Linked DNA regions of Homo sapiens. The protein of the gene in region 7 interacts with the protein of the main gene of each other region in a pairwise test. Each region holds a gene or a part of one and is shown on either strand. Other genes may lie near its edges. The genes, in order: PBX2, TRIM42, ZNF620, TNNI1, ZNF438, NOL12 and CDCA7L.

Evidence for each region.
Region 1: the proteins of CDCA7L (region 7) and PBX2 interact in binary tests that used the Homo sapiens proteins (3 or more experiments, as listed by UniProt).
Region 2: the proteins of CDCA7L (region 7) and TRIM42 interact in binary tests that used the Homo sapiens proteins (3 or more experiments, as listed by UniProt).
Region 3: the proteins of CDCA7L (region 7) and ZNF620 interact in binary tests that used the Homo sapiens proteins (3 or more experiments, as listed by UniProt).
Region 4: the proteins of CDCA7L (region 7) and TNNI1 interact in binary tests that used the Homo sapiens proteins (3 or more experiments, as listed by UniProt).
Region 5: the proteins of CDCA7L (region 7) and ZNF438 interact in binary tests that used the Homo sapiens proteins (3 or more experiments, as listed by UniProt).
Region 6: the proteins of CDCA7L (region 7) and NOL12 interact in binary tests that used the Homo sapiens proteins (3 or more experiments, as listed by UniProt).

Annotation. Positions count from the first base shown.
Region 1 is NC_000006.12:32,184,233-32,187,202, forward strand, and holds the end of PBX2 (pre-B-cell leukemia transcription factor 2), read right to left. Parts: intron 2,670-2,970; coding exon 2,581-2,669; intron 2,459-2,580; coding exon 2,372-2,458; intron 2,243-2,371; coding exon 2,150-2,242; 3' UTR 501-2,149; downstream 1-500. UniProt on the Homo sapiens protein: Transcriptional activator that binds the sequence 5'-ATCAATCAA-3'. Activates transcription of PF4 in complex with MEIS1.
Region 2 is NC_000003.12:140,684,564-140,688,063, reverse strand, and holds part of TRIM42 (tripartite motif-containing protein 42), read right to left. Parts: intron 343-3,500; coding exon 1-342.
Region 3 is NC_000003.12:40,509,039-40,512,538, forward strand, and holds part of ZNF620 (zinc finger protein 620), read left to right. Parts: intron 1-2,431; coding exon 2,432-2,558; intron 2,559-3,363; coding exon 3,364-3,477; intron 3,478-3,500. UniProt on the Homo sapiens protein: May be involved in transcriptional regulation.
Region 4 is NC_000001.11:201,404,731-201,408,230, forward strand, and holds part of TNNI1 (troponin I, slow skeletal muscle), read right to left. Parts: 3' UTR 1-3,500. UniProt on the Homo sapiens protein: Troponin I is the inhibitory subunit of troponin, the thin filament regulatory complex which confers calcium-sensitivity to striated muscle actomyosin ATPase activity.
Region 5 is NC_000010.11:30,844,132-30,846,865, forward strand, and holds the end of ZNF438 (zinc finger protein 438), read right to left. Parts: intron 1,443-2,734; coding exon 830-1,442; 3' UTR 501-829; downstream 1-500. UniProt on the Homo sapiens protein: Isoform 1 acts as a transcriptional repressor.
Region 6 is NC_000022.11:37,691,659-37,693,974, reverse strand, and holds the end of NOL12 (nucleolar protein 12), read right to left. Parts: 3' UTR 501-2,316; downstream 1-500. UniProt on the Homo sapiens protein: Multifunctional RNA binding protein that plays a role in RNA metabolism and DNA maintenance. Participates in the resolution of DNA stress and the maintenance of genome integrity by localizing to sites of DNA insults.
Region 7 is NC_000007.14:21,904,400-21,907,899, forward strand, and holds part of CDCA7L (cell division cycle-associated 7-like protein), read right to left. Parts: intron 2,241-3,500; coding exon 2,169-2,240; intron 2,058-2,168; coding exon 1,890-2,057; intron 1,233-1,889; coding exon 1,107-1,232; intron 1-1,106. UniProt on the Homo sapiens protein: Plays a role in transcriptional regulation as a repressor that inhibits monoamine oxidase A (MAOA) activity and gene expression by binding to the promoter.

The DNA.
Region 1 (2,970 bases), on a different chromosome or scaffold from region 7:
TCCAGGGTCCTGGCTCTGTCTGCCCCTCTCCCTGCTGTGGCCTCCGCCCTAGGTGGGGCCTGCACCCTCTCTCCAGCCCCCATCTTTCAGTCGTCTTGTCACAGGGAATGCTAGGAATTCATGCCTTTGGGACAAGAGTCCTTCAGGTACTAGAGAAATAATTATCACCCCACCCCTGGGTACTACCAGCCTCTGGGTACAGTCACTTCCCTGGGGGATGGGGAGTGTACCCTCTAGGGTCTCATTCCCTCAGAGCCCCCGATCCTATTTATTCCATCAGTCCATCAGGGCTGCCTGGTGACCCACTGGAGCCCCATCTTGATTGCGCAAAGTTGCATCAATAGGGTTCAGGCCAGACTGTTGTCTGCAAGGGTGCAATTGGGCCTGCATCATGAAGGCAAGGCTGGGGAACAGGAGAGAAACCTGTTTGGAACTTCGTGAAAGAAAATCATTTTTTTTCTGGGGTTTCTCATGTTTTTTGAAAAAAATTCTCAACTAAACCCAGGGAAAAAAGAAATTTCTTTATTTAAAACTGCATTTTGTTTTTTTTCTGTGAAACTACACAAGTTTACAAGTGAGGAGAGAACTGCCCCCGGCCCATGCCTCCCACCCCCCCACCCATCACACTTCCAACCTGTCCCCAGTCCTGCCCGGATCTTTAATGGGAGGGGTTCCCCACTCTGACAGTCTTGTAAAATCCTGAGAATGTCTGAGGGGATCAGATGGTAGCTAGTTCAGGGCTGAGGATGGGACAGTGTTGATGTTACTTTTCCCCCACATCTGGCTTTTTGCAACCTCCTCCCTCTCCCTACCCCTTGATTTTGGTGTGACAAAAAGATACCTCATTTATGGGGAAATTGAGGAAGATACATATACAAGCACCCCAACCCATATTTAACATATTTGGCAATAACTCCCTTCCCATTCTTCCCCCTCCAATTTTCAAATAGTAGTTTTTTAAAAAATTAAAGACATGTCACTCACAGGGGAAGATGGCATCTTCAATTTCCTCAAAATTACTGAGTCCAGCCCTGCCCAAGGGTTGTGGGAAGAAGGGGGATGAGAGGCCAGCAGGGCAAGCCCTTCACTGCCTCCACATCAAATGCGGCAGAAACCTGCCTGCATGAACAAAGAACACCTAAGGGATTTTAGGGGGCAAAGCTTGGTGCCCTGTAAAATTTACTTCCTGATGGACAGGCCTGGAGCCAGGGGGGCCTCTTTACCAGTTCTGTTTGTCCCCCTTTCTCTTACCAGAACCCCTTTGGCTATCACCCCTAATATGGGAAAGTAAGAAATAAAAAAAAAAAAAGACAAGAAATCAACATATTTATAAAAAAAAAAACAAGCTACTTCCCCAAACTAAATTAAAAATTAAGAACCACCACCACCACCACCACCAACAACAACAAAAACAACAACAACAACAAAAAAAACAGATGGATCCCAGGGTTTCTTTTTCTTTCTTTAAAAAAAAAAAAGTTCAACCCCAAAGCCCAGTCAATAATTCCCTAAAGTAGCAGAAACTCCCTCCGAGGTAGATATCTGAGTCAGACACTCTCGTCCACCGAGCGATTCTATTGGTTTAAGATGAGCTGCGTATGAGGTAAGTAAGCCGTCCGGAGGGGCGGGGGTGGGGATGCATGGGGGCGTGGCCCATGTCCTCTGTCCAGAAGTCATGTCCCCATTTTTGGCATCTCTGATTGGGCAGGGCTGGCGTCTCCACAGATTCCAGAGCATACAAGTGGGGTGGGGAAGGGAAAGTGGGGGAGCCCAGGAGAGAAACAGAATAGTTGCAAGTGGGAGTATGTGTGTGTGAGGTGTGGGAGAGGGAGAGAGAAAGACAGAGGAGAAAAAGGGGTCTGAGAAATAGGTTTCTCGGTATGTGTATGTTTCTGTGTAAGAAAGAAAGCGAGAGAGGAAAAAGATGGAAAAAAGGGAGAGACAGACCCCACACTCCCCTTAGAGGCCCCATTCTTCCTGCCATGTAATTAGCACCCCCAGCACAGAGAGTCTCGTTAGGGAGGGGATGACCCCATTGGCCCTTCTCTGTCTTGTGCTTCTCCTGTATTGGGGTTTGTCCTCTGGAAGCCTGCGTCCTCTTCAAGTCGCCTTGTGAGAGCCCCCACCCCTGTGACCCTGAGGGGCAAGATCAGTTGGAGGTATCAGAGTGAACACTCCCTGGTCCCTCCGTTGGGGATGTCACTGAAGAGGGGGTCACAGCCTCTTGCCAGCTGCCATTTGCCTGAAAGGAGAGACAGAGTACAGAAAACAGAGAAAGCCCTGGGAACCCTGTGTGGGCACAACATTACTAGGGAAAATGCCCCTCTGTCCTGTGAGAACTGGACAGAGAGGAGCTTCAGGATCCACTCACCCTCATTTCCCGTGGGCTGTACATCTGGCCTCCCCCGAGGTTATCCCCATAGCCCCCTGGCCCCATCGAGTGTCGGAGTGATTCCACCTGCAGGCAGCAGAGGAAGGTATGACAGTGAAGAGAAGCCTCAGAGGAAAGAGGTCTTGTATCCTAAAGTAGAGGAAATGGAGTTGGGGAAAGCCCTATTCGAGAGGAGATGGGCATCTGACCTGGGAAGCAGAATAGGAATCTCCGTTGAGCCCAGGCATCCCCAGAAACATGTCTCCAGATCCTGAGAGATTGAAAGAGCCGCCAGAGCCTTGTGGGGGCAGAGAGGGAAGAGTGTAATAGAGCCCGTGATGGTAGAGGATGAACCACAACTCTCAACTCTTGTGGGGACATGCTACTATACTCCAATTATCCACAAAATAACATTCCAACACACAGAAAGAGCAGGCTGTTCCTTGGCCACCCGTGGGAAGAAAGGCAGAACTAAGATCACTGGAATGGCCTCTGTCCCCTGACATCTCCAGCCTATCTCAGCTCGGTCCCTCTCACCCCAAAAGGCCCCCTCTCTGCTATGATCCTGCCTAGATAGGAAGTGGGAACAAAAGCAGGAA
Region 2 (3,500 bases), on a different chromosome or scaffold from region 7:
AGGTGGTCTGGATGCCGTCCTCGATCTGGTCCACCAGGATCTTGGCTGACTGCAGGAATGCCACCTGGCCAGTCTCCTTCAGGGCTTCCTTGGAGTAGGCGATCAGACCATCCATCTCGTTCACTTTCATGGTTGTAACATACACATATTTTTCAATTTCCTTCTGCCTGGACACTTCTAGATTCTCTATCTGCTCCATGATGATCTTCTCTTTCTCCTGAAGAATGCTGCGCAACTTGAGAAAGCCATTTCTGATCTCTTTTCGCTTTGCCTCCTTGTCAGCTTTAAAGCTGTTTTTTAAGATGTTGAATTCCATTAGGTCATTATCAATTTCATATCGGACTGCAAAAATGCCAAGTTAGTTACTTTTAAAATTTTCATCTCCCCAGGTGTCAAAGTCAGTAGCAAACTAGAACAAATTACCCTAGGCTCCAAGGAGGTGAATGAAGAGGGAGGGAAGGCACTTGTAGTTGGGCTGAAACAGGCTGGAATAGGTTTATGAAATGAATTTGGTCCTCCTTAGTACACCCTTCCCCTTCTTCCCCCTCTGATCCTTCTCTGGGATATTTCTATCTTGTAACAGTAATCCCTATGGCCTTGAGTCTGAGACTGGAAGTTCAAGCCCACCCTTGATATTGGTTTTTACCAGATTTCAGTTGTCTGCAAGTTGGACTTGAGAAGAGGTGAAGTCACAAAATGACTGGTGCCTGCTTTTCCCTGTAGGAAACCTAAGCTTTTGCAGTGGTAAGAGGAAGAACTAAGTTTCTGCCGACTACTTCTAAAGGTTGTCTTGCATCATTCGCTAAGCCTCCAGCCCTATACAACAGTGGGAAATCAGCAAAGCTTCCCTTCATTGAGGTGGCTCTCTTAGATGCCCTTTTCCCCCCTTTGTCCCTCTTGTGGTTCAGCTATGTCACTTCTCCTTGCCTTTCCCCCACTCCTTTCAAAAAAGAGTCTGCTGTCACACTTCAAGGAAAACCAGTTTACCCTGTGTCCCCTCATATGGCATTTGGATTTTAAGTTCACTCAGTCATTCAACAAACATTTACTGGAGCCCTGTTACATGCCATGTATCTTTTAGGCACTAAGAATATGGATATGATTATGAGAGGGCATCTGTGCTCAAGGTATGAATAAATCCAAAGATACTACAGTTTAAGGATGCTATGGCAGGGTAAGCACGTGGCACATCTCTATCTGTGAAATGAGCTTTATATGAAAGGTGAAATGAATACCTTTGTTAGCTTTAAAGGATTTGAGGCATTAAGGAGCAATTTGAAGAATGTCACCCTTCTGTGGTCTATGCTACGGGTAAGGTTCTTCTCATGAAAGGTAAACTCTTCAGTGAATTGATGGGCAATAATCCTTACCAAATTTTACTCAGGAGTGGGGATGACTAGCTATTTTTGCACTTGGTTCATAACATTATCCTGGGTTCATAGGAAGCTGGACTTCTGTGAGTGGTGGTCGTTGTAACAAGGGTGTGCACTTGAATATGGGAAACCCTAGTGTTCTGTCAGATCATGAGAACAGGGACCACATTACCACTATGACTATGGTGTGTAGAGGTGAGCAAATGTATTTGTTGAGTAAAAGCCATTCTTTCCTGTCTTCTAACAACTCATTGGTGAATGCCAGCAGTGTCACTCTCTGGCTAACTCCCTGAAGCCCCAGTGTTTTCTTGCCACCTCCTTCCTCACACTGGCTCAGAAAAGATGAGGTGATGCAGGTGAGACTGAAAGGGAAACTACCAGGGTCCGATTTCAGTGCTGAGAAGTGCTTCTTGCCTTCCCCAATGCACTGTGACTGTGGCAGCCAGAATTCTACTTTGCGCATTATTTTCTTTGACTATTCAATAGTTACCTACTGTTAAAGATACTTGGATAGGAAATTTCTTGCTGTATTAGGGATTGATTAGGCTTATGTAGAGCAAAGTCCTGAGAAGCAGGATAAAAATTTCTTAGATGAGAGGAAAAAGGCATCTCCAGGAGGAGAAAAAAGACAGAGGAAGCCACAAATGTCCCACCCCAAACCTCTGCAAATATGAAACCTCTGCAAGAGCTGATTTTAAAGCAAAGTCAAATCAAGGTCTCTTTTAGGCAATACACTTAAAACTAGTTGTTATTTATTAAACACTTTTTATGGACCAGATCCATATGTTTTTATCTATCACATATATCTTCTTACAATGAAGATATTGTTTCCACTTATAGATGAAAAAGCTTGAGGCCCTGGGAAGTTAAGTGACTGTATAGTGTTACACATCAGGTAAATGGGAGAAACTAGGCTCTGTCCCTAATTCTATTTGTCTAGCTCCAAACTAGGTTCTTAATTGCTTCAGCTGTGGCTCTCAGCCCTCTCTGAGTACCAGAATAACCTGAGAGAGTGTTAAAAAAAAACTCTTCTCTTGGACTCATCTGCTAAGATTCTGAATCAATGGGCCTGTGTTGGGGCTCAGGAAGCCAGGTGAGGCAGTTTTCAGTGAGGTTTAGAATCGAACCCAGAGAATCTCCTGGGATCATGATAAAGATGCAGATTCTGATGCACTAGGCCTGGGGTGGGTCCTGAGATTCTGCATTTCTAACAAGCTCTCAGGTGATGCCAATGCTACTGGTCCTTGAACCATACTTTGAGTGGCAGGGACCTAAACTTTTGAGCTCCCTTTATTTCAGTGGTTCTCGACCTTGGCTGCACCATAGAATCACATGAGGAGTTTTTTAAAATTCCATCTTGCTGAGCCTGCACCTCTATGTGGATGGGACAGGGGCATCAGTTTTTAGTAAAGCTTCTAGAATGGATCTTCTCCCTAGGTCCCCCAGTTTCTCAATGTGTATTCCCAGATCACTTGCTTTTGAATAACCTGGAGATCTGTTTAGAATGCCAATTTATGGTACCTCCCAGAAAAGTGAATCAAATGCTCACGAACAAGTTTGAACCCTGGTTAAAAAATTTTTGTGTGTCTGTTTCTTCAGCAAGGATGAAAGGTTAAATTCTTTACTTACAGCTAATATCTAATTTACCAATTATCCCTTTTTCCCTTTCCAACTGCTGGGTTTCCTGGAATTTGGACAGGCATTTTCCCCCCACCTTGAATTGAGCTTTGTTGTCTGCTCAAATTTTAGGTGCCCTGGACTCAGAAAACTATCCTAAGTTTCTCCTGTATTAAGGACGAGGTTCTCTACAGAGGGATGGAAGGCACAGTAGGTTGTAGGCGGCAGTGCCTTCACCATGCTGAGGACCCAAAGAATCCAGCCAAGCCCTGGCCTAGGGAGGCAGTGAGTCCCACCTTCAGAAAACCCTTTTGGAACCAACAGTTCTACCATTTTCTTGGTAATGTGGTTCCTGCAGGGTTCCTTTAATATGAAGTCTTCCCTGGTGGTGGTTCCAAAATTAAATAAATGTCAATTGACAAGCAAGGTTTCCAGGTATGTGGCCATTGAGAAAAATTAAGGTATTCCTGAAGCTACTGAGAGGTCCGGGGTGATGTGGTCATTAGCAAA
Region 3 (3,500 bases), on a different chromosome or scaffold from region 7:
TTAAGCAGATAGTAGGTTCTTATTTGCTTAAAAGTCCAATATGACAATGTTTGCCTTTTGGGATGTTTAGATTATTTACATTTGATACCATTATTGATATGGCTGGATCTGGGCCTGTCATCTTTCTACTTGTTTTGTAATGGTCCCATCTGTTCTTTGTTTCCTTTTATTCTCTTTTTCTATTTTCTTTCTTTTCTTTTTTTTCTTTTGTTTGAGACAGAGTCACTGTGTCACCCAGGCTGGAGTGCAATGGTATGATCTCGGCTCATTGCAATTTCTGCTTTCTGGGTTCAAGCGATTCTTGTGTCCAGCCTCCCACGTAGCTGGGATTATAGGCACACACCACCATGCCTGGCACATTTTTTGTATTTTTAGTAGAGATGGAGTTTCATCATGTTGGCCAGGCTGGTCTCGAACTCTTGGCCTCGAGTGATCTGCCCACCTCAGCTTCTCAAAGGGCTGGGATTACATGCATGAGCCACCGTGCCTGGCTCTTTTTTTTCCTATTTTCCATAGGATTAATGGTGTGTAAATATCAGGCATCGTTCTTTTCAGTCTTTCCAAATGATCCTTTCTCTGGCCTTGGTTAGTTTTCCCACACCCATGTACTGATCTGTATTTTGTTGAATACTCTAAAGGGACCTTCTGCTGATAATTGAGATTCCATCTCTATGCAGCCCTCTCCTCTCTGGCATTCTGTCCTATAAACTCAAGCTGCCTTGGTCTCTTCAGACTCTACAAGGAAATATGCCAGGTTCTGCCTCAGTTCCCCCTTCCTGTGTTGCAGCCTGGAAATTCCTCAGGGTAGTAGCTTAGGGAATTATAGGGCTCACTTCTTTTCTTTCCTGTTTCTCAGGGATTGTTGTCGTTTTTTGCATGATATCTTGAAAATTGTTTTATATAATTTGTCTGGTTATTTTGTTTCAGGCAGGAGGGGAAATCCAGCCCCTGTGATTCCACCTAGATAAGAACTGGAAGTTTTCCCTTAGCATTTTTTTTTTTTTGAGACAGTCCCACTGTCACCCATGCCAGAGTACAGTAGCACGATCACGGCTCACTGTAGCCTCAACCTCCCCTAGGCTCAGGTGATCCTCCCACCTCAGTCTCCCGAGTAGCTGGGAGCACCACCTTGCATGGCTAATTTTTGCATATTTTGTAGAGACGGGGTTTCACCATGTTGCCCAGGCTGGTCTCGAACTTCTGAGCTGAAGCAATCTTCTCACCTTGGCCTCCCAAGGGGCTGGGATTACAGGTGTAATCTGTAATCCCTGCATTTTCAAAAACATTACCCTTTTACTTTTGGTGTTTAGTCTGTTGCCATCTCGACTTCCCAGTCTTCGTGTGTGTTGTTTTTCCTTCTCTGAAAGCCTGTAGGATCTGTTGTGTATTCTCATTTTTCTGAGATGTCTCAGTTACATGCCTATGTGTAGATATTTTTCATTCATTGTCCTAAATACTTTGTTGGTCCTTCCTTCTCTATGTTGCTTTTAAGGAGATAGAATATTTTACCAAGTTATAAACAACAGTGCACATTTACAAAATCCTTAGCTCATCCTTAGTTCTGTGGTGTGAATTGGGCCCCTTTTTGTTTGCTTCCCCTTCTGCCAGAAGTTGAGTTTCATCTTTGTCTGCTTTTCTAGTCTAGTTATCATTCATTCTCTTTCTGCCTTCTAAAATTCTGTTTATACCTCTAGTTGGCTTTGATTCTTCTCTCTCTCTCTTTTTTTTGAGACAGGGTCTCACTCTGTCACCCAGGCTGGCGTACAGTGGTGCAAACACAGCTCACTGCAGCCTCGACCTCCCCGAGCTCAGGTGATCCTCCCATCTCAACCTCCCAGGTAGCTGGGACTACAGGCATGCACCACCACACTTGGCGAATTTTTGTATTTTTTGTAGAGACGGGATTTCACCCTGTTGGCAACATCGCCAGGCTGGTCTCAAGCCATCCGCCTGCCTTGGCCTCCCAAAGTGCTAGGATTACAGGCGTGAGCCACTGTGCCCAGCCTGCTTTGACTCTTCTCTTGGGCTATTATGTTACTATCACTTTAATGGGGTTAGGGAGAGAGTGAAGATCAGTACAAAAGTGTTATTCACTGTGTTTATACAGATGTCCCCTGTGCATGTGCACACAAAACCCACACTGGGGAAAGGAGCCCAGAGGAACAGATGGGCACACAGAGCAGGGCACAGTGGAGGCAAGCAGAGATCAGCAGATGAAAATAGAGCTGTTTGCTGGGGATGACCACAAAGGGGTGCAATGACCCTTGGACTCCCCTGTTGGTGCGGGCAAAGATGGCTGAGGGCTGGCCTCATGGTGGAGTGCTGGATAACTGTCCTTGGCAATACCACTAGACCCAGTAGATCTCTGCCCCACTACTTAGCCTGATCCTCTGCCCTCACACAGGGTTTGAGCAGGAACTTGTTGTTTTAGGAACCAGTGACCTTTGAGGATGTGGCTGTGTACTTCACCCAGAATGAATGGGCCAGCCTGGACTCTGTGCAGAGGGCCCTGTACAGGGAAGTGATGCTGGAGAATTATGCAAATGTGGCTTCCCTGGGTAAGACATTTCTTCTTGTTTTTGGCCTCTGCCCTTTAAGCATCCTGGCTTCTTTATTCCTTAGAACTTTGTGGGGTTTTTTTCTTTTTTTCTTTTTTTTTTGAGACAAGAGTCTCCCTCTGTCGCCCAGGCTGGAGTGCAATGGCGCAATCTCGGCTCACTACAACCTCCACCTCCCAGGTTCAAGCGATTCTTCTGCCTCAGCCTCCAAAGTAGCTGGGATTACAGGTGGGCGCCACCACACCCGGCTAATTATTGTATTTTTAGTAGAGATGGGGTTTCTCCATGTTGGCCAGGCTGGTCTCGAACTCCTGGCCTCAAGCGATCCTCCTGCCTCAGCCTCCCAAAGTGCTGGGAAGACATGTGTGAGCCACCGCTCCTGGCAGGAGAACTTTGTGGGGTTTCTAATAACTCTCTGTTGCCCTGAAGGCTGAGCTGCCTGGAAGTTTCTGGGTGGAGAGAGCCCTGCGTTCCCAGGTTTTGAAATCACCTGTCCCTCCAACCCTGGGAGGGGCTGTACCCAAAACATGGGGGGGAAAGGAGCTCTTGGGAGCACAGCAAAGCCCCTTGTGTCTTCCAAGTTCTCTGAAGAAAACTTGAGATTCCCTTATGTGAGCGTGGGATTATTCTGGGACTCTGTGCCACTTTGTGGGAAATTTCTGTCCTCCAGCAGCATAGATTAAGTTTCTCCCTGACTCACCTTGTCTCTCACTACCTGGCTCAGCAGATAAAGATAAAGGGGGCTGCAAGAGGATCCTGGTTCCTGATTCCCCTTACCTTTTCCTGTTTCTTTCTCCCTGGGCAGCATTCCCATTCACCACGCCTGTTCTGGTCTCCCAGCTGGAGCAAGGGGAACTGCCATGGGGCCTCGATCCCTGGGAACCTATGGGCAGGGAGGCTCTCAGAGGTATCTGTCCAGGTGAGCATGAGAACCCACTAGCT
Region 4 (3,500 bases), on a different chromosome or scaffold from region 7:
GTCACAAAGAGCCAGTCAGGAGAAGAGCATCTGGGAGGCACTAGTACAGGGGACACACAGGTGTCTGTGACACTCAGGGCGGGCAGACAGGTCATCACCCTGCATTCTGCATGCCCACGCATACACACCATGCTCACCCCTTCTGATGAACAGGCACAAGCGTTCACACACACGCTCCTCCCCCAGGGGCTCCCAGGTTGGAACACCTCCCCTGACTGCCAGGCAAAGCCATACCTCTCTCCTGAACCCAGGGCAAAGGGCCAGGCTCACCCAGCCTGTGCCAACCAGTGAGAGAGGCCAATGGTTGGCACTGGAGCCAGTTGGGGTGCTGAGTTGAGGCCAGAGATGGGCAGCCTGTTCAGATCCCTGGGCGTTTGCCTCTGGCCAGGAGACCAAAGCCCTGTCCACATCCAATTTCCTCAGACTGGGAGTCTGGGGACCTACTTCCTAGCTCCAGTTAGGTTTGTGACCTTGAGCAAGTCACCCTCCCTCTCTGGTCCTTCGGACATTGACCGCAGTGCTCTGGGCCAGTGCTATGGGGTTTTCGAGGCTCACCCTGCTCAGCCTTCGTCTCAGGGGACCCACAAGCCAGCCTAGAAGTGTGTCTTGGAAGGAAGAGAAAACCCTTGCCCGTCACCTTTAATGAAAGACCCACAGGCAGACAAGCTTTGGGGATGTCTGAGGAAAGAGACCTGATGGGGGTCAGGAGCAGAAGCTGCCATTAGCACTGGTCCCAGCGAACTGTCCTGGGCTTCCGCAGCTTGGTCACCCACCTGGAACGAAGCTAACCCCCCCGCCCCCGGCTGCCCAGCCCAGAGACTTGTGGGGAGTATGACTCACTTCGCGGGGGGCCATTGTGGCTAATGTTTAACTCTGCCCCTCCTTCAGCAAGGCACTTTAGCCCCAGCAGCCCTTAGCGCTGGGCCCTGCCCTGATCATGCCTGCTGCTGAGTGGGCTCAGACACACAGCTGAGCTTGGCCTCCTTGCGCCGTGGGGACCGGGCACCCTGTGGGGAAAGGTGGGAGCAACAGCTGGTCTCCCAAGGGCTCTGGGACAGGCAAGAGTGTAGCAGGTGGCATCCTGCCCTGGTCATTCCTACCAAGCAGAGAGGAGCACCAGGCCCATCTCCACCAGCTGCAGAGAGAGGGGGTGCCCACCCAGCTATTGTGTGCTGATTAGTAATAGATATCCCCCAAGTAGCACCCTATCCCTCCACTCTCAGCCAGGGCCCCATGTTGGAGGAAGGCCTCACCTTAGCCCATCTGTATGTCACCTGCATCTCCTTTGAATGTTTCCCCTTTGGTGCGGGTGTGTGGGGACTCCCCAGGTGCATATGCAGGACCCTCGACCCCCAGCTGTGTCCTTCCAAGAAAGTTGGGCTCTGTTAAGGCCAGTCTGATCTCAGAAAAGGGCAACCCCAAGGCAGAGTGACCTGAGATCTAGTCTCCAGTCTGCAGCTAGCAAACCCTGTAACTTAGAGTGAGCTACTTGAACTCTCCAGGCCTCCATTTCCTCATCTGTAAATTTGAGCTAACAAATGTACCATTTTTGTGAGAATGCAATGATATAACTCAGATAAAGCATTTAACATCACATATTACTATTATTGAAATGCTGTTATTAAAATAGTCGATAAGAGTATGGATTCTAACAGACTTCTTGGGTTGAATCCTGGGACCACCACTTATTAGCTGTGTGATCATGAAAAGTCCCTAACCTCTCTGTGCCTCAGTTTTCCCCACTGTACCATGAGAATAGTAGCTGTACCTTTCTCCTAGGGTTGTTGTGAAAGTTAAATAAATTAAGGTGTACATGCTGGTGCCTGACGCATAAGTGTGCTACATGTGTGAGCTGTTACTCAGTGGCAGGCCCCAGCTCCCAGCTCTACTGGTGTTGTCTCCATGGTGAGAGAAGACTGGAGTAGAATCAGGGCTCTCCAGAGGCCAGGCCCCCAGCCCAGGCCCCATTCTTGGCTACAACAGCCCCTTCCATAGATCCCTCTCCCACCCCCAAGCTCTCCTTCCCCTTGTCCACAGGGCCTCTCAATCCTTGCGCTCCAGATATGTCTATGCCTATATTCGCCCTTGCTCCATCCTCACAGGAGATGAATTAGGTCTGTTGCTGCCTGGAAGCAGAAGGAGGAACCCGATGACCTCCAGGAACCCTCTGGTTGGCTCTTCTGCCCCTCCTAGAGGGCCACTGGCTTAGGTGTGTTGAGTGGGCCCCACCTCCTCCTCCCATGGGTCTTCTGCACCCACGTGTTTGCTTTGAGTCAGGCCCAGAGCAGGTCTCCTGCCTTTACATGACTGGGTGGATACCCCAATCTGCCAGGGCCCCAGGTTAATAGTTGACTGCAAAACTGGGATTTGACTCTGGAACTTGGGGCCAGGCTCTAGGGAAGAGCTGGAAAGAGGTGAAACAAGGAGATCGCTTTGGATCCAGGCCAACCGGAGGAGCCCTGTGAGGCGGGGAAGAGTGGGTTTCTGTGGCTGCCTGGGCATGAAGGCATGAAGCCTAACCCCATCCTCTGTGGCCTGGACCAGCCCTGTCAGGTTCTCCAACTTCGTGCATTGAGACTGGGTGTGTCCGTGCCTACGGGTTTCTGTGTGTGATTGGGGTTGTGCTTTTTGCACACATCTGCCTCTCTGCCCACTGACCTATTTATAGCAAGAACCCTGGGCAGAGTGCTGCTTCCCCTAAGGTAGCCCAAGTTGCTGGTTCCCACTGCCATGCTTTCTGAAAGGGGCTGGCAGCCCAGCAGCCCAGAGAGCCAGACCATGCCCTGGGGAGCAGCTGGCACTGCACTTTGTACCAATTTCTGGCACTTATGGAAGATAATACATGGGATTCGAAGGTAGAATGGGGACTCAGTAGGGTGGGTAGAAGGGTTGCTGCTCTGATAACTCAGCCCCTCCTAGGGCCAGTGCTAGGGTGGTCGAAAAGCCAAGGGACCCCAGGTCTGGGAACAGCCACTTCCCTTGCAGGCTTAGCTCAGAAGTCACCATCCCACTGCCCTGAAAAGTCAGAACTTGACCGGATGTGGTCGCTCACACCTGTAATCCCAGAACTTTGGGAGGCCGAGGTGGGCAGATTACGAGGTCAGGAGTTCGAGACCAGCCTGACCAACATGGTGAAACCCTGTCTCTACTAAAAATACAAAAATTAGCGGGGTGTGGTGGCACGCACCTGTAATCCCAGCTACTCAGGAGGTTGAAGCAGGAGAATCGCTTGAACCTGGGAGGCGGAGGTTGCAGTGAGTCGAGATCGCGTCACTGCACTCCAGCCTGGGTGACACAGCGAGACTCCATCTCAAAAAAAAAAAAAAAAGGAAAAAGAAAAGTCAGAACTTTGGTCTCTGCTTCACAGGAGCCACTCTAGTGAGTATGTTGGGGGAAGAGAGGCTGCCCCAGACCCCCCTTCCACCCCAGAAGGCCCTATGCTCTCACCAGGCTTTGGACCCAGGAGGTAGTGGGATGGAGAAAGGACCTGATCCAGAGGA
Region 5 (2,734 bases), on a different chromosome or scaffold from region 7:
CCCTCTGAAGTTACTTGGGAGTGAGGGAAAGCAGTTGAGACCCCTACACATCTGGACTGAACTATCTAGTTCATTTTCCAGGTTGTAAATTTTCTGGTCCCAAAGACTACTTGAAAATAACTTTTTACCAAGCAAGTAGACTTTTTATTAGCTGAAGTACTAAATTTTTTAAAAAATTATTTTGATATGGAACACTACAGCTATAAGACTTGCCAACAACTAATCTTCAATGAAATGTGCATTTAAGAAAATAGCAAAATTACAAGAAACAAAAATCTGAGTCCTGAAAACATGGATTTTAAATTATTGTAGATGACAATCTTATTAAAATACTGCTCTATATCATATTCAAATAAACCAGAGAATTTAATAAATATCAGCATTTACCATCTAACTTGATACTATGGTTGAGATTAAAAGGGTTTTGCTGCCTGGACATTTTTGACATTTGTCAATCTATATAAGCAGAAAACATCTGAACAAAAGGAAGGACACATGCATGTTTTCACTGAGAGCTGTATTTGAAGAACAGCCTATATTCTGCTAAATTTCAATCTTCAAATTTTGATCTTTTTATTTATTCTGAAAGTCTAAGATATTAAGAATCAGTACGTATTTTAAAATAAGACTGCATATAGTTAGAAAAATATGCTTCGAGAGCTTATATTTTATTTCGTTAAGAAAATAAAACCATGTACAAAAATCATTTCTGTTCACTCACACCAATCCTGTTGTTTGATCTTTGTGACTAAGCACCACCATAAAGCACGAAGCTCTGAAGGAAGGTGGCGGCAGAGCTCTCTCCTTAACCCCAGGCTGCCTTGGGGTCTCATTTCTCAGCTTCACTGGAAAGTTCGATCACTCCCTGGTTGGAGACCGTATTTAAAATAGCCCACAGTTTGGAAGGGTCCTCACAGTTATGCTGGTGCTTCCAGTGGTGGAGGAGGTCCTCTTTCCGTCCCAGCATCTCTGCACAAAGCAGGCAGTTAAAGCCTGAATGGGACCACAAGAGAAACGTGTGGAGGCCAGGACACTCAGGGCCCTGGCAGGTTTCCCTTGGCTTGTTGGTTCCTGACTGGGGTCCTTCATTTTCCATGAGCATTTCCACGCCATTCTGATGAAGGTGGAGCTGCCTTTTCAGTCTTGGACATGCATGTGATTCCTCGGAGGAGGAATGAACCTTCTCCGGCTTCCCTCTCTCAGGATGCCTTTTCCAGTCGGGGCTAGCGTGCTGCACCAACTCTTCCTGAGTCCCCTTGCTTCCTGGGAAGGTCCCTTCTTGTAGCCTGCCCTCAATTTCCTCTCCATGAACATCAAGTAAATGAAATTTTATTTCCGCAAAAGACTGAGCAGTAATCTGACAACGACCACATTTGATTTGTAATTTGACTTCGTCTGCCTGGTTTAGAAGGAAGTCTTCTTCCAGGTTGGACTTGTTTTCCCTGAAAAGGCCAATAATAATGAAGATAAGATTTCATGGAAAAATGCAATTGGAATCTTTCCTCTCAGCTGTCAGCCTTCAGGGATCTAAAACATAACACTGACGAGAAAGACAAGGGCTGGGGTAAACAGAGAGCACCTGGGAAGACCTTCTGCAAGGACCGTGGTGAATACTAATTGTCACTCCTGCTTGTGGCCACACATTTCTCCAGCTACCAGGGTTCATTTAGTCAACAGTCCTCTTCACGCATCTGTCCCAGGCGAGCTAACTCGTCTTTGGTTACCACAGGGACAGGAGCAATCACGTGGAAGAGTCACGTAAGAGCGCGTGAAGGGCACGGGAACACCCTCGGTTCTGTTGAAGGTAACGGTCCCACCCTACCCACTGTGGCTCTCCCTAACCTTGAGCACCAATACCTTCTATTCAATTTTGGCTCACTCTGTCATGTTCAGTAAAAATAAAGGGTGCCTACCCTATTTCTTCCTTGCTTTTCTAGAGTTTCTCCTTTTTCTTAGACATTTCTGTCCCCTTTAAGACCTCTGTGCCTTTCACTAATGAACCATGAAACCTCACTTCTTCCTTCTTTTCCTAGAGTTAGATTTTGATTTTTAGGTACAATGTCCAAACTACATTTGGCAAGAGCGTCTGTTTTCATTTGGGGAAGAGGAGAAGATTTCATATTCAGAAAGGAGCCAGTGAGCACCCAGCTGAAGGTGCAGCCGGGACTTGTGGGGCTAGTCCTGAGAGTGTCAGGTTCATTTGTGCAGGGTTGGCCAGGGCCACTGCACCACCTGCACCTTGCCTGCTGTTGCTGCTGGGAAAACATGGAGAGGAGGTGGGCAGTCCCTGAAACCTGCCGCCATGAGAGCCACTGCGATGGGGCCAGGCTGAGTCACCTGCTGGCAGGGGAAAACAGCACACTAGGGCATGCAGGAGTGGGTAGAGAGGGGCCCTGAGGCAGAGCTGGGCCAGGGGTGGTGCCACACTTCATGGAGCCAGTGGGAGCTGGGGACAAGCACGAGCCCTGCCCTTTCCAAGTTGACGGTGTGGGAGCTTACCAGGCACAACTGCCTGCAGCTGCCCAAGCTGCAGCTGTGACCCAGGCACCCCTGTGCTCTTGGAAGCTGGGAGCAGGCAGGAGCGCTCCTGCCCTCCCAGGCATCACTGTAGCTACCCTGCTGTGGCTGCAGATCCAGGCATCTCTGCACTCTCAGGGGTCCAGGAAGGCCCCTTTCCCCCCACGGGCTCAAGAAGCACCTGCTCCTGCTGCCTGGCTTCTCCCTGCTGTCAGCA
Region 6 (2,316 bases), on a different chromosome or scaffold from region 7:
GCCCTAAATGTTTTCAAAAGGAGGGGCATGTTCTTCATCCCCTTTTCTGTCCTGCTGGCTGAAATGCAGACATAATGGCTGCAGCTCAAGCAGCCACCTTGTGCTGTGAGGCAGGGGCCATGTGTTGAAAATGGCACACAACATAGAACACAGCATAGAGTTAGAAGCCCGGCATCCCAGCCTCCAGCCTTCCCAGCTCCAGGCTGGGAACCTCCCATCTTTGGGATGGGAACTCTTTTACACAAGCCAGTTGTTTTTCAATTTTGTTTTAGAGTATATGCAGCTAAACTTAACTCTTCCTCATACATCTCTCAGAGGCCCAACTCTGGAAAGCGACAGGAGGAAGGAGCCCAGGTGCCTCCACAGCAATGGTGAGGGGCTCCTGGAGAAAAGACAAGTTCTCCAGAGGGCTCTGAATCCACCACCCTGATCCTAGAATTGGTCAAATCACTGTGACTCAACTTCCCTGGTCTGCTGGAAGAAATGAAGGCACACATGGAAAGGAGTGGCTGAGAATTTAATACTGGTAAACACTATAAATTGTAAATGTAAGTTGTAAATGACCTTGTCACTGGAGAGGGGAGAAGGAACTGGAGTCAGACGTCCCAGCAGAAACAGCAGCGGCAACATGCGGTAGGCACACCTGGAGAGCAACAGGCACTTTGGTAAGTGGTTCATGCACATGGTCTTATTTTAGTCTCGGGGCAGCCCTAAGAGGTAGGTATCTGGTGTCACCTTACACATGACGAGACAAACCAGAGAGGTCAGCACAGCAGAAGCTCATGCAGCGACCAAGCAGCAGAGCCTGGATTCAAACCCGAGCCCTGCTGTGTGCAAGAACCCCTGGGACTCAGCTGTTCCTGCTCACAGCAGGCTGAGCACCAGAGCCACCTGGAGGGCCCATAATAGGCACCACTGTGCCCAGGCACGAGGCAGCCAAGTGGCACATGCCACCCGGGGAAGACAACTTGGTGGCAGGGAGAGCAGGTGGGCGGAGCCAAGAAGCCAGGCCAAGGCGCTCAGCACAATCCCTGAGGGGAACTCACCATACCCGGGTGCAGCCCTCAGACTCCCACCAGCCTTCATCAGTGGGTTTTGATGGTGACATGGGAGAGGGCCTGCCCACTCCCAGGTACAGCATAACTGAGGCACAGTCACTAAGCCTGCCCCACTGTAAGGCCTGGCTGTTGGCTGTGGAGAGAGGACAGCCCTGCAGACCCTGGCTCACTGCTCACCCCCACTCCAGGAGCTCCCACATCAGGGCGGGTAGAGCCCGCAGTCCTGTCGCAGATGCCCCTCACCGCACTGTCCTGTCATCCTGACTCCATAGTCCACGGGCGTCAGCAAGCCCTGGGAACACAGTTCACTCCCCTTTGTGGTCCTAGTGTTTAGGACCCAACACAGCTCCTCTAACCAAGGCACAACCTGAAATTCTCTCCTGCCCAGGACTGACAAGCTGGGACAAGGAAGGGACAGGGTTTCCATCAACTCATCCATCTGGAAGGAGTGTGAAGACATGGCCCCTTGTGGAGTTCTAGCTGGCACCCGCAGGGTCTACTCTGGTGGGGGCTACTTTTGTACGAGTCAAGATGCAACTGCTTTATTTTTTAGTTTTTTTTTGAGACAAGGTCACAACGTTGCCCAGGCTGGAGTGCAATGGCGTGATCTCGGCTCACTGCAGCCTCCGCCTCCAGGGTTCAAGTGATTCTTCCACCTCAGCCTCCCAAGTAGCTGGGATTACACGCGTGTGCCACCACACCTGGCTAATTTTTGCATTTTTAGTAGAGACAGGGTTTCACCATGTTGGCCAGGCTGGTCTCGAGCTCCCGACCTTAAGTGATCTGCCCGCCTGGGCCTCCCAAAGTGCTGGGATTACAGGCGTGAGCCACCAAGCCCGGCTGCAACTGCTTTAGAAAGAATTAATTAATCCTTCCACGTTGGGACCCACCTGGGAGCTGCTGGAAGCCTGGGGACGCTGCCCCAGTGTGGTGATGGGGGATGACCTGGCACTCAACTGCTTCCACCACTTCAGTGTCAGTTGAGGAGACTCCTGGGGCCGAGGACAAGGGACAGGCACAGAGGCTCCTCGGTGAAGGGCATGGGGGGCACTGCTCCCCCACTGGCCTCAGGAGCCTGCTTTTCAGAGCAGCAGGTGGGCTCTGGATTCTAGCAACGGACACACTGATCCTTAACCCTGGTTAGGATCTTAACACAGGGAGAACTGTACTTTATTGCAGCCACAGGGCTAACTGCTGGAGACAGACCCATGGGCCCTGGCCATTTCCACCACCCCAAAAACCTGCCCTTGTGCGTGGT
Region 7 (3,500 bases):
CACAGCATTGTCTCTAGACCGGGGTCCCCAGCCCCCAGGCTAGAACCAGTCTGTGGCCTGTTTGGAACCGGGCTGCACAGCAGGAAGTGAGCAGCGGACGGGCGAGCATTACCGCCTGAGCTCTGCCTCCTGTCAGATCAGCAGCAGCATTAGATTCTCATAGGAGCACAAACCCTCTATTGTGAATTGCACATGTGAGGGATCTAGGTTGTGCACCCTTTATAAGAATCTAATGCCCGATGATCTGAGGTGGAACAGTTTCATCCTGAAACCATCCCCTTCCTGCCCCCCAAATCCATGGAAAAACTGTCTTTCACAAAACCAGTCCCTGGTGCCAAAAAGGTTGGGGACCACTGCTCTAGAATGTAACCATCACAGGTCTGTGGCCAGAGAAACATATTAGGTCAGATGAGGCTGAGCAGAGACCCAGAAGGAATGAAATGATCAGGCTGTCAGGAAGAGAGACCAGAGAAAAGCTTGAGGCAGGGGTGGCAGAGCCCCTGAAAGGTGACAGGTGACTGAGGGGCAATGAGCCTTGGGTGGCATCACCTCGGCCCCAGCCTAGCTCTGCAGACCTGGATACCTTCAATGTGAGATCTATTTTTTTTTAAATATTGGCAACTAAATTTAAAACTTGACAGTGTCCCGTTACATATCCAGAAAAACACAAAAAAAATGCAGAACGCAAAGCCTCCCTCTAAATCACCATTTAGAAGAAATTTAACCCATTTCCTACCAAAGATATTCTGCCAAACTTTAATTTCTATGGTTATATTACCCCCCAAATATACTTTTTTCAATATTTAGAACATAAAACTATATGCTTAAACCATTAACAGTTACATATAAAAATCCCTTTTAAACTATACCGTTCCCTTCCCCCAGATTCTACGCATCCCTAAGAGAGACCGCCGTCCAGATGGGAATTACTGCACTAGGCTGCCTCCCCTTTCCCAGGTACAGCTGACTTTTGACCCTCCAATTCAGAGCCTGGCTCTGAGCCCTTGGTGAGATGGCATAAGCCCTGATAGAGTTTAAAAACAAGTGAGATTTCAATACCAATGCCTTCGACTCCCAATAAGAATGACAATTAATGTATACTTTACCAGAACTTTATCATAGATTTTATCTCGAACAGTTATGGCAACATTTTCTAAGTCCTCTTCGGTGATATCCTCCACTGGCCGAAAAGAAGATATACGGTGACGTCGTCTGTACTCCCGGCATTTCCCCTGCACAATGAACACAAGCAGAACATGGAGATGTGTTGAGCAGTTATAAAAAAATTATAAATATTTTAAACTCTCAAAGATCTAGCACCATTAATGTTAACCCCGTCCCTCTTCTATTTCCCTGCAGCCATTTCATTTAGTTATTTACTGAGCTCCTGCCACCTGCCAAGCTTCCTTCTCAGCAAGGCGATACAATCATAAAGGAGGAACTCAAGGTTTTTGGTTCTTTGCTGTAAACTCTGTGGAGAGGTGAACCACACTGAACAGCCAAACCCACAAATGGGTCCACAGTTGCTCCCTCCAAACTGAAAGCGCTTGAAACGCCTCATGCCTAAAACAGAAAGGCAAGGAGGAATCACTGCACTTTTCTTTATTGCCTGCAGCAGAGATTAAAGCAGGGTCCTAACAAATGAGCTGCTTCTCAGCTCGGCTTGGATAAAAGACTCTCTCTGTGACCTCCAGCTTAGACCAGGGCTGCTTCTCAAAGTGTGATCTCAGGAGCAATGGCATCACCTGGGAAGCAGAGAGAAATGCAAGTTCTCAGCTGCCGCAGACCCACGGGGTCAGAACCAGCCCTGGGGTGACAGTGACGTGCGTTCACGTTTGGAGGGATGGTAGCTCAGACAAAAACTAATTCATGTATTAGTCAGAAAATACCCCAATTGTCTTCCTTCTTCGGAAGCTGTAAAACTCTTCCGCAAATTTAGCGGCTGAGACAGTGAAGTTCTCTAGAGCAAACTTCTCAGGAGGCCGCGCACTCCGGGTTGGGTTCATACGCCGCGTGATCTGTCCCTCCGAGAAGGCCCGCCTCACTGTCTTCTTCCTCTGAAATCAAGAGCACAGACAGAGACAACTGGGGACTCTCTCGAATAAAAGCCGTCTGGTGGCTGATCACCATATATCAGTATTGGTATAATTATAAGGAGTTCTACTTACAGAAGCTGAGGTTGGGGTTCGTACTGGGAAGAAATCTGGCATCGAGTTCAATTCCGCCAATAACTGGGCAAGCTGAAGTTCAGAACAAAAGAAAGAATCTTACAAAAATAGGGCTCCAGGTTTAGGTCATCCAACACCTATCTCAAGTCTTCCATTTTGCCACCATAAGAAACCTAACTTGAATAGTTTATATAACCCACAACAGTTATACTTTTAACCTCACATGTAAAGATTGTACCTCCAGACCTGAGATGCTGATGTCATCATTCATATGAATGAACACTAGCCTATTCCTTATATATAAGGACAACACAACACTATGAAAACAGTCCTGGAATGATCAAGACCTGGAGCATGAGGTTCCGATCCCGACTCGGAGGCTAATCCAAGGCGGTGTGACCCTGGGACAATTCATTTTGCACACGTGAGTCTCAAGTTTCAGGATGTTCAAAAAAGAAAAAGCTCAACTAGATTATTTCGATGGTTATTTAGAACTCCAAAAGTCTGATTCTTTAAATAGATTAATTTCTCATCAATCAAAGTAATCTATGAAGATATTCCTACGTGAACTAATAATACCAAATAATAGGCATTAATATGCCAGAGAATTTAATTAGGATTCGTTTTAGTTTATACAATTATATGAGTGCCACCAAAAAAATCATAAAGAAAATAGCTTATTTTAAAGATGCAGATGGATACAGTGCTGAAAATTTCCCTTAGCTAAGTAAAAATGTTTCTTAGGATAAAAATAATCCGAAAGTAGGCATTCCATTTTTGTAAGTAATTTATATTAGACATATAAGCTTGCATATACAGTATCACTGCATCATTCTTTTTTTAAAAGGAAAAGATTAAAAAATTACCAAAATGCTAAAAGGGATAAGTGGTAGAACTATTTAAAAAAAAACTGTAGATAAACAATTATGAAGCAAACAATGATTCTCTACAATGATCAGATTAACAGTAATTGATTATATACAGAAAAACCAAATATATGTAACAAAGATTTCACCTGGTTCCATTCATTGTTCTAATGAAGACAATGTAGAGTGAATTAACACTGTTGAGGTTGTTTTAATTCCTAGACCTCTTCCATTCCTTCAGAAGTCTCAGAACCAGTGCTGGTCACCATAGAAGAGTGGTTCTGTGGTGAAAAGCTACCTGCCCAACCTGCTCCTTGCAACTTCTCAGTGGACTTGGTGACATCCCACTTCCCCTGCTTTACTCTGCTGGGAACGGGCTAGTTGTTCAGCCCCTCTCATCCCCAACACAACTATATACTTAGAACTTAGCTTGGTCAACAGTAAGCAGCATTATGGCACCATGTAG